Regions from separate parts of the Homo sapiens genome. Here region 2 is linked to region 1. The links come from fine-mapping of genetic effects on gene expression. Tissue or cell type: whole blood. Region 1 holds a variant in brackets; the other region holds the start of a gene. Each region is shown on its reference strand, or each on the opposite one.

Region 1 (4,375 bases):
TAGCTGGGACCACAGGCATGCTCCACCATGTCCAGCTAAAGTTTTTCTTTCTTTTTTTTTTTTTTTTTGGTTGGCTGTTTAATTTTTTGTAGAAATGGGGTCTTGCTATGTTGCCCTGGCTGGTCTTGAACTGCCAGCCTTCAGGGACGCTCCTGCCTTGACCTCCCCAAATGCTGGGATCACAGGCATGAGCCACCATGACCGACCTGATGTGTATTAAAGAACTAGAGCTGTGGGCCGGGCGCGGTGGCTCACGCCTGTAATCCCAGCACTTTGGGAGGCCGAGGCGGGCGGATCACGAGGTCAGGAGATCGAGACCATCCTGGCTAACACGGTGAAACCCCGTTTCTACTAAAAATACAAAAAATTAGCCGGGCGTGGTAGCGGGCGCCTGTAGTCCCAGCTACTCGGGAGGCTGAGGCAGGAGAATGGCGTGAACCCGGGAGGCGGAGCTTGCAGTGAGCAGAGATTGTGCCACTGCACTCCAGCCTGGGCGACAGAGCGAGACTCCGTCTCAAAAAAAAAAAAAAGAAAAAGAACTAGAGCTGTGGCCGGGCGCGGTGGCTGTTGCCTGTAATCCCAGCACTTTGGGAGGCTGAGGCAGATGGATCACAAGGTCAGGAGTTCAAGACCAGCCTGGGCAACATGGTGAAACCCCGACTCTACTAAAAATACAAAAATTAGCTGGGTGTGGTGGCAGATGCCTGTAATCCCAGCTACTTGGGAGGCTGAGGGAGGAGAATTACTTGAACCCGGGAGGTGGAGGGGGCAGTGAGCTGAGATCGCGTCACTGCACTCCAGCCTGGGCAACAGAGCGAGACACCGTCTCAAAATAAAAGGGTTATTCTCATTCAACAAAAGTGCTGTTGGTTTCAGCCATGAGTCAGCTCATGCTGAGGCAAGCTGTTTGGCTTGCAGTCCTCAGTTTCCCCACCTGTAAAGGCGGGTGAGGACGGTAATAGGACCTTCTGCAGGGCAGCAGTGGGGGTCGACGGATTTGAGGTTTCTTGATTTGTTTTTACATGGAGTTTTGTTCTTGTCACCCAGGCTGGAGTGCAGTGGTGTGACCTTGGCTTCCTGGGTTCAAGCCATTCTCCTGCGTCAGCCTCCTAAGTAGCTGGGATTACAGGCACCTGCCACCACGCCTGAATAATTTGTTTTTTGTATTTGTAGTAGAGACGGGATTTCACCATGTTGGCCAGGCTGGTCTCGAACTCCTGACCTCAGGTGATCCGCCGGCCTCAGCCTCCCAAAGTGCTGGGATTACAGGCGTGAGCCACCGCGCCCTGCCTTTTTTTTTTTTTAATAGAGAGGGGTCTTGCTATGCTGCCCAGGCTCGTCTGGAACTCCTGGGCTCCAGCGATCCTCCCCCACCATCTGGCCACTACCGAATTGTTAAGTGGGTGAATTGCTTGGTGTGTGTGAAGGACATCTCAATAAAGCTGTCAACCAAAAAAAAAAGAAAAGAAAGAAAAGAAAGACCTTGCACACACACTGCTGGATCTAGCACACGCGAGAGCTGCCCAGGGGGCTGCCCCGTCCTCACTGTACGTGGGCTTCCCCGTCAGGATCTGTTTCCACGCAAGGCTGATGCAGCCCGGTCCTGACCGGAGGGTCCCAGCACCGTCCCGCGGGCCCCGGGTCCTCCAGGCTCCCTGTGCGTCCTGGGGGGACTCAAAAGCACAGGCCAGGGCGACAGGAGCGCTGGGAGCGGGTAGCAGGGAGGGTTCCGTGGAACACGCTGGGGGCTTTGCAG[G/A]GGTCGGCCTGGGGGCAGAGGTAGTGGGGGCCCCTTCCTGTACCAACCGTAGGTGGCGCAACTGGTAACGGCTTCAGGGATCGCAGGTGACGCCGCCTGGGGCCGAGGGGAGACCCATGCGGGGCTCAGGCCTGTGTCTCTGTCTCTGTCTCTCTCCCCGCCCTCTTTCTGTCTCCTTCTCTGTCTCTGTCTCTGTCTCCCTCTGTCTCTGTCTCTCTGTCTCAGTCTGTCTCTGTCTCCCTATATCTGTCTGTCTCTTCATCTCTGTGTCTGTGTCTGTGTCTCTCTGTGTCATCGCTGTCTCCCTTTTTTAAAACTATCTCTCTCAGTCTCTCTGGCTCTGTCCCTCTTTTTCCGTCTCTCTCTGTCTCTGTGTCTCTGTCCGTCTCTGTCTCTCCATCTTTCTTGTTCTCTCTTTTTTCTCTCCTCTACTACTTTCTTTTTCTTTCTTTCTTTCTTTTTTTTTTTGAGATGAAGTCTTGCTCTGTTGCCCAGGCTGGAGTGCAGTGGCGCGATCTCGGCTCACTGCAAGCTCCGCCTCCTGGGTACAAGCGATTCTCCTGCCTCAGCCTCCTGAATAGCTGGGATTACAGGCGCCCACCACCACACCCAGCTAATTTTTGTATTTTTAGTAGAGACGAGGTTTCACCATGTTGGCCAGGCTGGTCTCGAACTCCTGACCTCAGGTGATCCACCCGCCTCGGCCTCCCAAAGTGCTGGGATGACAGGCGTGAGCCACTGTGCCCGGCCTCCTTTCCTCTCCTCTTTATAAAGGAAAACCTTCTCTCCCTGAGTGACGGGAAGATGCTGGTTCGCCCGCGAGGCTCAGCCTCGCAGTGGTTGTGTTTTGTGTGTGTTTTGTGCCGACCGTTGACCTTCCCGTGTGCTTGGGGCCCTGACACCCGGCCGCCTTCCACACCCCCCAGGCCCATCCACCCACCTGTCCCCTGATGCCCCCTCTCACGGGATTTCTAAGCCAAACCCAGACATTTCACAATCTGTTCTGAGAATTCCGAAAATTTAAAAACCTTCTCAAGACACCAGTGAGTGGGGCCGGGTAGAGGGGCACAGAGAAGAAACAGAACAGCTGTTTTTAGCCTGAGCACAGCTGGCTCTGCCAGGAGGCTGCACGCGTCGGGGCCTGGACGGGGCTGCGGGGTGGGGGCTGCACGCACGCGTCGGGGCCTGGACGGGGCTGCGGGGTGGGGGCTGCACGCGTCGGGGCCTGGACGGGGCTGCGGGGTGGCGGGTGGGTCCACGGATGGGACCCCGTTCTATGTCCCTGAAATCCGAGGCGCGGAGAGGACTCGGGCTGCCCACAGTCACACGCAGCCCCGCTCTGAGGGCCCTGCAGCCGGGCTGACCGCTACCAGGGGAACCCGAGAACAGCACCCTTGGGCCCAGGAAGGGGGAGCAGCAGGGGCTGGGGGGAGGAGGGCAGAAACCGCCTCTGGCAGGAATCCCGCCCCAGCAGGGGGACCCTCATGACCGAACGTGGCCCCGAGCCGGGGGCACCAGAAGCCCTTGAACCCCAATCCTGCCTTGGGCCTCAGTTTCCCCATCTGAACAATGATCAGGCAGTGGCTTTGCCTCTCCAAACCCAGGCAGGGCCCCCACCGGCTGGGCTCCTGAGCCATTGGCACCCCTCTCTAGGCTTAGTTTCCCCCTCTGTAAAGAGAACCCGTTGGCCGGGCGCGGTGGCTCACGCCTGTCATCCCAGCACTTTGGGAGGCTGAGGCGGGCGGATCACGAGGTCAGGAGATCGAGACCATCCTGGCTAACACGGTGAAACCCCGTCTCTACTAAAAATACAAAAAATTAGCCGGGCACGGTGGCGGGTGCCTGTAGTCCCAGCTACTCGGGAGGCTGAGGCAGGAGAATGGCGTGAACCCGGGAGGTGGAGGTTGCAGTGAGCCGAGATCGCGCCACTGGACTCCAGCCTGGGCGACAGAGCGAGACTCCGTCTCAAAAAAAAAAAAAAAAAAGGACCCGTTATACCCACAAAAGAAAGAAAAGCAGCAGTTCCAACACAAACCTGCACATGAGTGTCCACAGCAGTGAGGGTCACAGTGGCCGGAAGTGGAGAGGCTCAGACGTCCATCCACAGGGGCCTCGAGCAGCACAGTGAGGCCTCCAGGCGTGGCAACAGGACGCAGCCGTGAAACGGACCCAGCTGTGACCCGACCACGGCGCGGAGGCACCGTGAGGACGTCACGCTCCGTGAGAGACGCCGGACACGAAAGACCACATAGTGTGTGATCCCATTGCTATGAAATGTCCAGGACAAGCCCATCCACAGAGACAGGAAGAGGACGCGTGGGTGCCGCGGACTGGGGAGGGGACAGGGAGTGACGGCTGATGGGGACAGGGATTCCTTTGGCGGTGATGAAATATTCTGGAACTCAACAGAGGTCATGACCACACAACATTGTGAGTGTACCGAAGACCATTGAATTGCACACTTCATTTTATTTTATTTTATTTTTTATTTTATTGAGACAGAGTCTCACTCTATCCCCTAGCCTGCAGTGCGGTGGCTCAATCTTGGCTCACTGCAAGCTCCGCCTCCCGGGTTCATGCCACTCTCCTGCCTCAGCCTCCCGACTAGCTGAGATTACA
Region 2 (4,375 bases), not on the chromosome of region 1:
GAAAGTAGATGGTAAAACAATATTTAAAGTTCTTCTTATCAATATTTAAAAATATATATTATGTTTACATATAGGATATCAAATTCTTAAATGAGGTATTGGTGAGTGGTGGGATTATGGGCAATTATTTTCCTTCCTATTGTTTATTTATGTGAAGACAATGATAAACCTTGAAAGAAAAAAGTACCCACAATCTCACTTGATGATGAGTAATTTTGATTTATTTTTATTTTTGCATACTCGTGTTCTCAAACTTTTCATCAGTGAAAATTATATTACTTAAAGGATTGAAAAATCATTTCCAAAAGCCTCTAAAATTCTAGAGCTTGATTCACAAAGAGCCACTCGACCAACTTCACACACAGCAAGTCACTGGCAGGGCAAAAGCTTGGTTCCCCTTCTCAGCAGGGGACAGAATCCCTGGACACACTGGGAAGATATTCTGGGTGTTGCTGTCCCTTGTCCCTTGGCCAAGAGGTGGTCTGGGCATAGAAGACAAGAGTGGGCCGGGCGCGGTGGCTCACGCCTGTAATCCCAACAGTGGGTGGATCAGGAGGAGGTCAGGAGTTTGAGACCAGCCTGGCCAACATGTTGAAACCCCATCTCTACTAAAAATACAAAATATTAGCCGGGCATGGTGGCGGGCGCCTGTAATCCCAGCTACTTGGGAGGCTGAGGCAGGAGAATTGCTTGAACCCAGGAGGCAGAGGTTGCAGTGAGCCGAGATTGCACCACTGTACTCCAGCTCCGCCAACAGTGAGAGACCCTGTCTCAAAAAAAAAAAAAAAAAAAAAGAGTGGGTGGCGGGAAGGTGGCTGAAGGTAGGAGGGGGAACCTAAATGGGACATGGGAGGCATGGTTGGCACGAGCTCAGCCTGACCAGGGCCCAGAGAGGTAGACTGATTCAGTCAAAAGTCGTAGTACTTTTCCTGCTGAGATTGGTGGCCCTTTTGCTGGGCTTTCTCAAGCAAGAAATATCCTCTTCTGTTTCAGAATTATTCTGAATCATTAACCCAAGTCCTCCCAACTGCACTGATCCTGTCCCAGAGAGGCCCTGGGCTGCATCACCTAACTGATCACTAACCACAACCAGTTCTGCTCTCTCCTGGTTCCTGAAATCCAGGAGCAGATGGTGGTGGGGAGGAGGAGTTTGGAGACAGCCCTCTACCAGAAGCCAAGAAGAAAGGGGAGTGAGGAGGGATAGAGGAAGTTATCTTGGTCCTGCGCCCACAGTCCCCAGGGTCCTCCTTCCTGTGAAGCCCAACGGTCTCCAGCCAGATTTCCTGTCCCCTTAGCCCCACCAAGAACCAGAGGCTGCCCATTGGGTGGCTGTTGGATGCAGGTTACTGTTGGAGTGGGGGATGGCCACCTGAGGCCAATTGGGTCATCTTTACTCCAGGTCTCCCTTTCATCCTCCTGTCTTCCCTGGGGGCACTCTATTCCCTGCAATTCCTTGGGCTACCAGTTCCTGACTTTTGTTCCTTTCAAAGGAACCCTGGATAACCAGTGTAACCAGAATTTCAGAGGGGTTAGTTGTGTGTATCCCCTGGGGACAAGCACTGGTATAGGCACACAATGGTGAGCTGAGAAATCTTGGGCTGGTAGTGCTAAATTCAAAGGCTGGGGACAGGCTGGGGCCAGTGGCTCATGCCTGTAATCCCAGCACTTTGGGAGGCTGAGGCGGGTGGATCACTTGAGGTCAGGAGTTCAAGACCAGCCTGGCCAACATGGTGAAACCCTGTATCTACTAAAAATACAAAAATTAGCTTCTTGCCTAAGGAAAAATACAAAAATTACTTCTTGCCTAAGGAAATAATTGATGATGTGGCTAGAGGCTAGGGCGTGGTGGCGGGCACCTGTAATCCCAGCTACTCGGGAGGCTGAGGCAGAAGAATCGCTTGAACCATTGCACATCAGCCTGGGCAACAGAGCAAGATAACGTCTCAAAAAAAAAAAAAAAAAAGGCTGGGGACAATGCTGGCCCCTCCTTTCCTGCCCCTTCCCCCCATTTCAGGGGCCCCTCTGTGTGTACCTTCCAACCCCAGTGGGGGAGGAGAAAGAGTTCAGTCTCCAGGATCAGACCTTCCTCTACCTCACCCCACCCCCAGCTTAGAGGACATAAAAGCGCAGATTGAGCTAAGAGGAGCTGACAATATCAGGTGAGCTGTGGAGGTGGGGTCCTTGGAAGCTGGATGACAGCAGCTGGCAAGGGGATAAGAGAGCAGTGAGCCCCTCCCTCAAGGAGGTCTGGCTTTATCCATAGACAGGGCCCTCTGAGGTGGGGCTGAGGTACAAAGGGGGATTGAGCAGCCCAGGAGAAGAGAGATGGGGGTTCCCTTCTTCTCTTCTCTCAGATGCATGGTGGACTTAGGACCTTGCTGGGCTGGGGGTCTCACTGCAGAGATGAAGCTGCTTCTGGCCCTAGCAGGGCTCCTGGCCATTCTGGCCACGCCCCAGCCCTCTGAAGGTGCTGCTCCAGGTAACAGTTCCCAAGGTGGGAGAAGATGGTGTGTTGGGGTGGTTGTGTTCCAGAGACCCCTTTTCTCAGAGCAGGCCTTCCTAGCTCTGGGGCCTGATAGGGGGTTGGGGCCCATTCCTGACTTTGTGATCCCTGCTCTGGGCAGCTGTCCTGGGGGAGGTGGACACCTCGTTGGTGCTGAGCTCCATGGAGGAGGCCAAGCAGCTGGTGGACAAGGCCTACAAGGAGCGGCGGGAAAGGTGGGGCACGAGGCACTGCCCAGCTCTGGGCAAGGATGTCCCAGGCCTTTCAGAGAAGCAGCAGGCAGCAGGGAGCTTGAAGGTGGGAGAGGGGGACTATGGGGACCCATGTGGACTCCCTTTCTGTCTGTCTGTCCCTGTGTTTCTGGATGGGAGAACAGCTTAAAAGCCATCCTTCCCAAAGCCTTGCCTCTGTCTGGACACCCAGGTCCATATCCTTTTTATAAAAGGAAGCCTTCCTCCCACCCGTGGGCCTGCCTGCATGGTCCTGCATGTCTGCCCCTGGGCTGGGGCTCTGCTGGGTGGGTCTGTATCCCTTCTCTGGCCCTCACTCCTCCTTTCTCCAAGCAGCATCAAGCAGCGGCTTCGCAGCGGCTCAGCCAGCCCCATGGAACTCCTATCCTACTTCAAGCAGCCGGTGGCAGCCACCAGGACGGCGGTGAGGGCCGCTGACTACCTGCACGTGGCTCTAGACCTGCTGGAGAGGAAGCTGCGGTCCCTGTGGCGAAGGCCATTCAATGTCACTGGTACTGTTGCCCATCACACCCCAGGTCCCTGCTCCACTAGTGACTCCTCCTAGGGACCCCAGCCGTCTCTCAGTGATCCCCTCAACTTCTTCCTCCAGGGAGTCTCAGGAGTCTCCAGGGCTCCTCAGCCTCAGGTTGCCTGGGATAGGAAGTGAGGCGGCTCAGCTCCCCCATTGTTCTTTCCCCCGGCAGATGTGCTGACGCCCGCCCAGCTGAATGTGTTGTCCAAGTCAAGCGGCTGCGCCTACCAGGACGTGGGGGTGACTTGCCCGGAGCAGGACAAATACCGCACCATCACCGGGATGTGCAACAACAGGTGCGGCTGGCTGGGGGTGGCTGCAGGAACCGGGCTCAGAGAGGCGTCCCGGACGCCACAAGCCTCCCGGTGTCAGCGCCCTGTCCTCCCCTGCAGACGCAGCCCCACGCTGGGGGCCTCCAACCGTGCCTTTGTGCGCTGGCTGCCGGCGGAGTATGAGGACGGCTTCTCTCTTCCCTACGGCTGGACGCCCGGGGTCAAGCGCAACGGCTTCCCGGTGGCTCTGGTGAGCGCCGGCGGGCAGAGGGGGCGAGGCCCGGCCACGCGGTGCGCGGACCCAGGCGCCAGCTGATCTCCGTGTCCCGCAGGCTCGCGCGGTCTCCAACGAGATCGTGCGCTTCCCCACTGATCAGCTGACTCCGGACCAGGAGCGCTCACTCATGTTCATGCAATGGGGCCAGCTGTTGGACCACGACCTCGACTTCACCCCTGAGCCGGCCGCCCGGGCCTCCTTCGTCACTGGCGTCAACTGCGAGACCAGCTGCGTTCAGCAGCCGCCCTGCTTCCCGCTCAAGGTGGCCCTGCTTCCCGCCCACTGCCTGGGTTGGGAGAGGGGAGATTGTTTCTGGAAGGGGCCATCTCCCTTCTGTGCCCAGGTTTCCTTTCCCAGACGCTGAGGAAGGCTGGCCCTGCCTCCCTTGTGTCCACAGCACTGGCTGCTCAGCTATGACCTGTCTCCTTCCTGCGCCTGGGCTCAGCCAGCTGGCAGCCAGGGCCGTCCATTTGCTCACTGCCTCTGGCAGGCCAAGGGAGAGAGGGTTGTTCCTCCTTGGCTGACAGGAGTCCTGTTGGTGGAATCACTGGCTCTTTGTTA

The links. PIP is the estimated chance that this variant, and not a neighbour inherited with it, causes the effect. A credible set is the group of variants that fine-mapping cannot tell apart.
Region 2: MPO starts here. The variant in region 1 is the best candidate, but not a certain one, in a credible set for the expression of MPO in whole blood (TOPMed, PIP 0.87).

What each region holds. Positions count from the first base shown.
Region 1 is chr19:834,036-838,410 of GRCh38, reverse strand. No RefSeq gene overlaps it. Among named protein-coding and RNA genes, the nearest start is that of PRTN3, 4.8 kb to the left of the region's middle. The variant G/A (reference allele first, on the strand shown) is at 1,757.
Region 2 is chr17:58,278,709-58,283,083 of GRCh38, reverse strand. MPO (myeloperoxidase) reads left to right here and starts at 2,149. Exons shown (of 12, transcript NM_000250.2): 1 at 2,149-2,479; 2 at 2,625-2,718; 3 at 3,070-3,245; 4 at 3,438-3,561; 5 at 3,658-3,787; 6 at 3,870-4,076. The coding sequence starts at 2,326. RefSeq lists promoters at 869-1,069, 1,115-1,340, 1,225-1,626, 2,019-2,159, 1,565-2,159 and enhancers at 1,199-1,216, 3,801-4,375.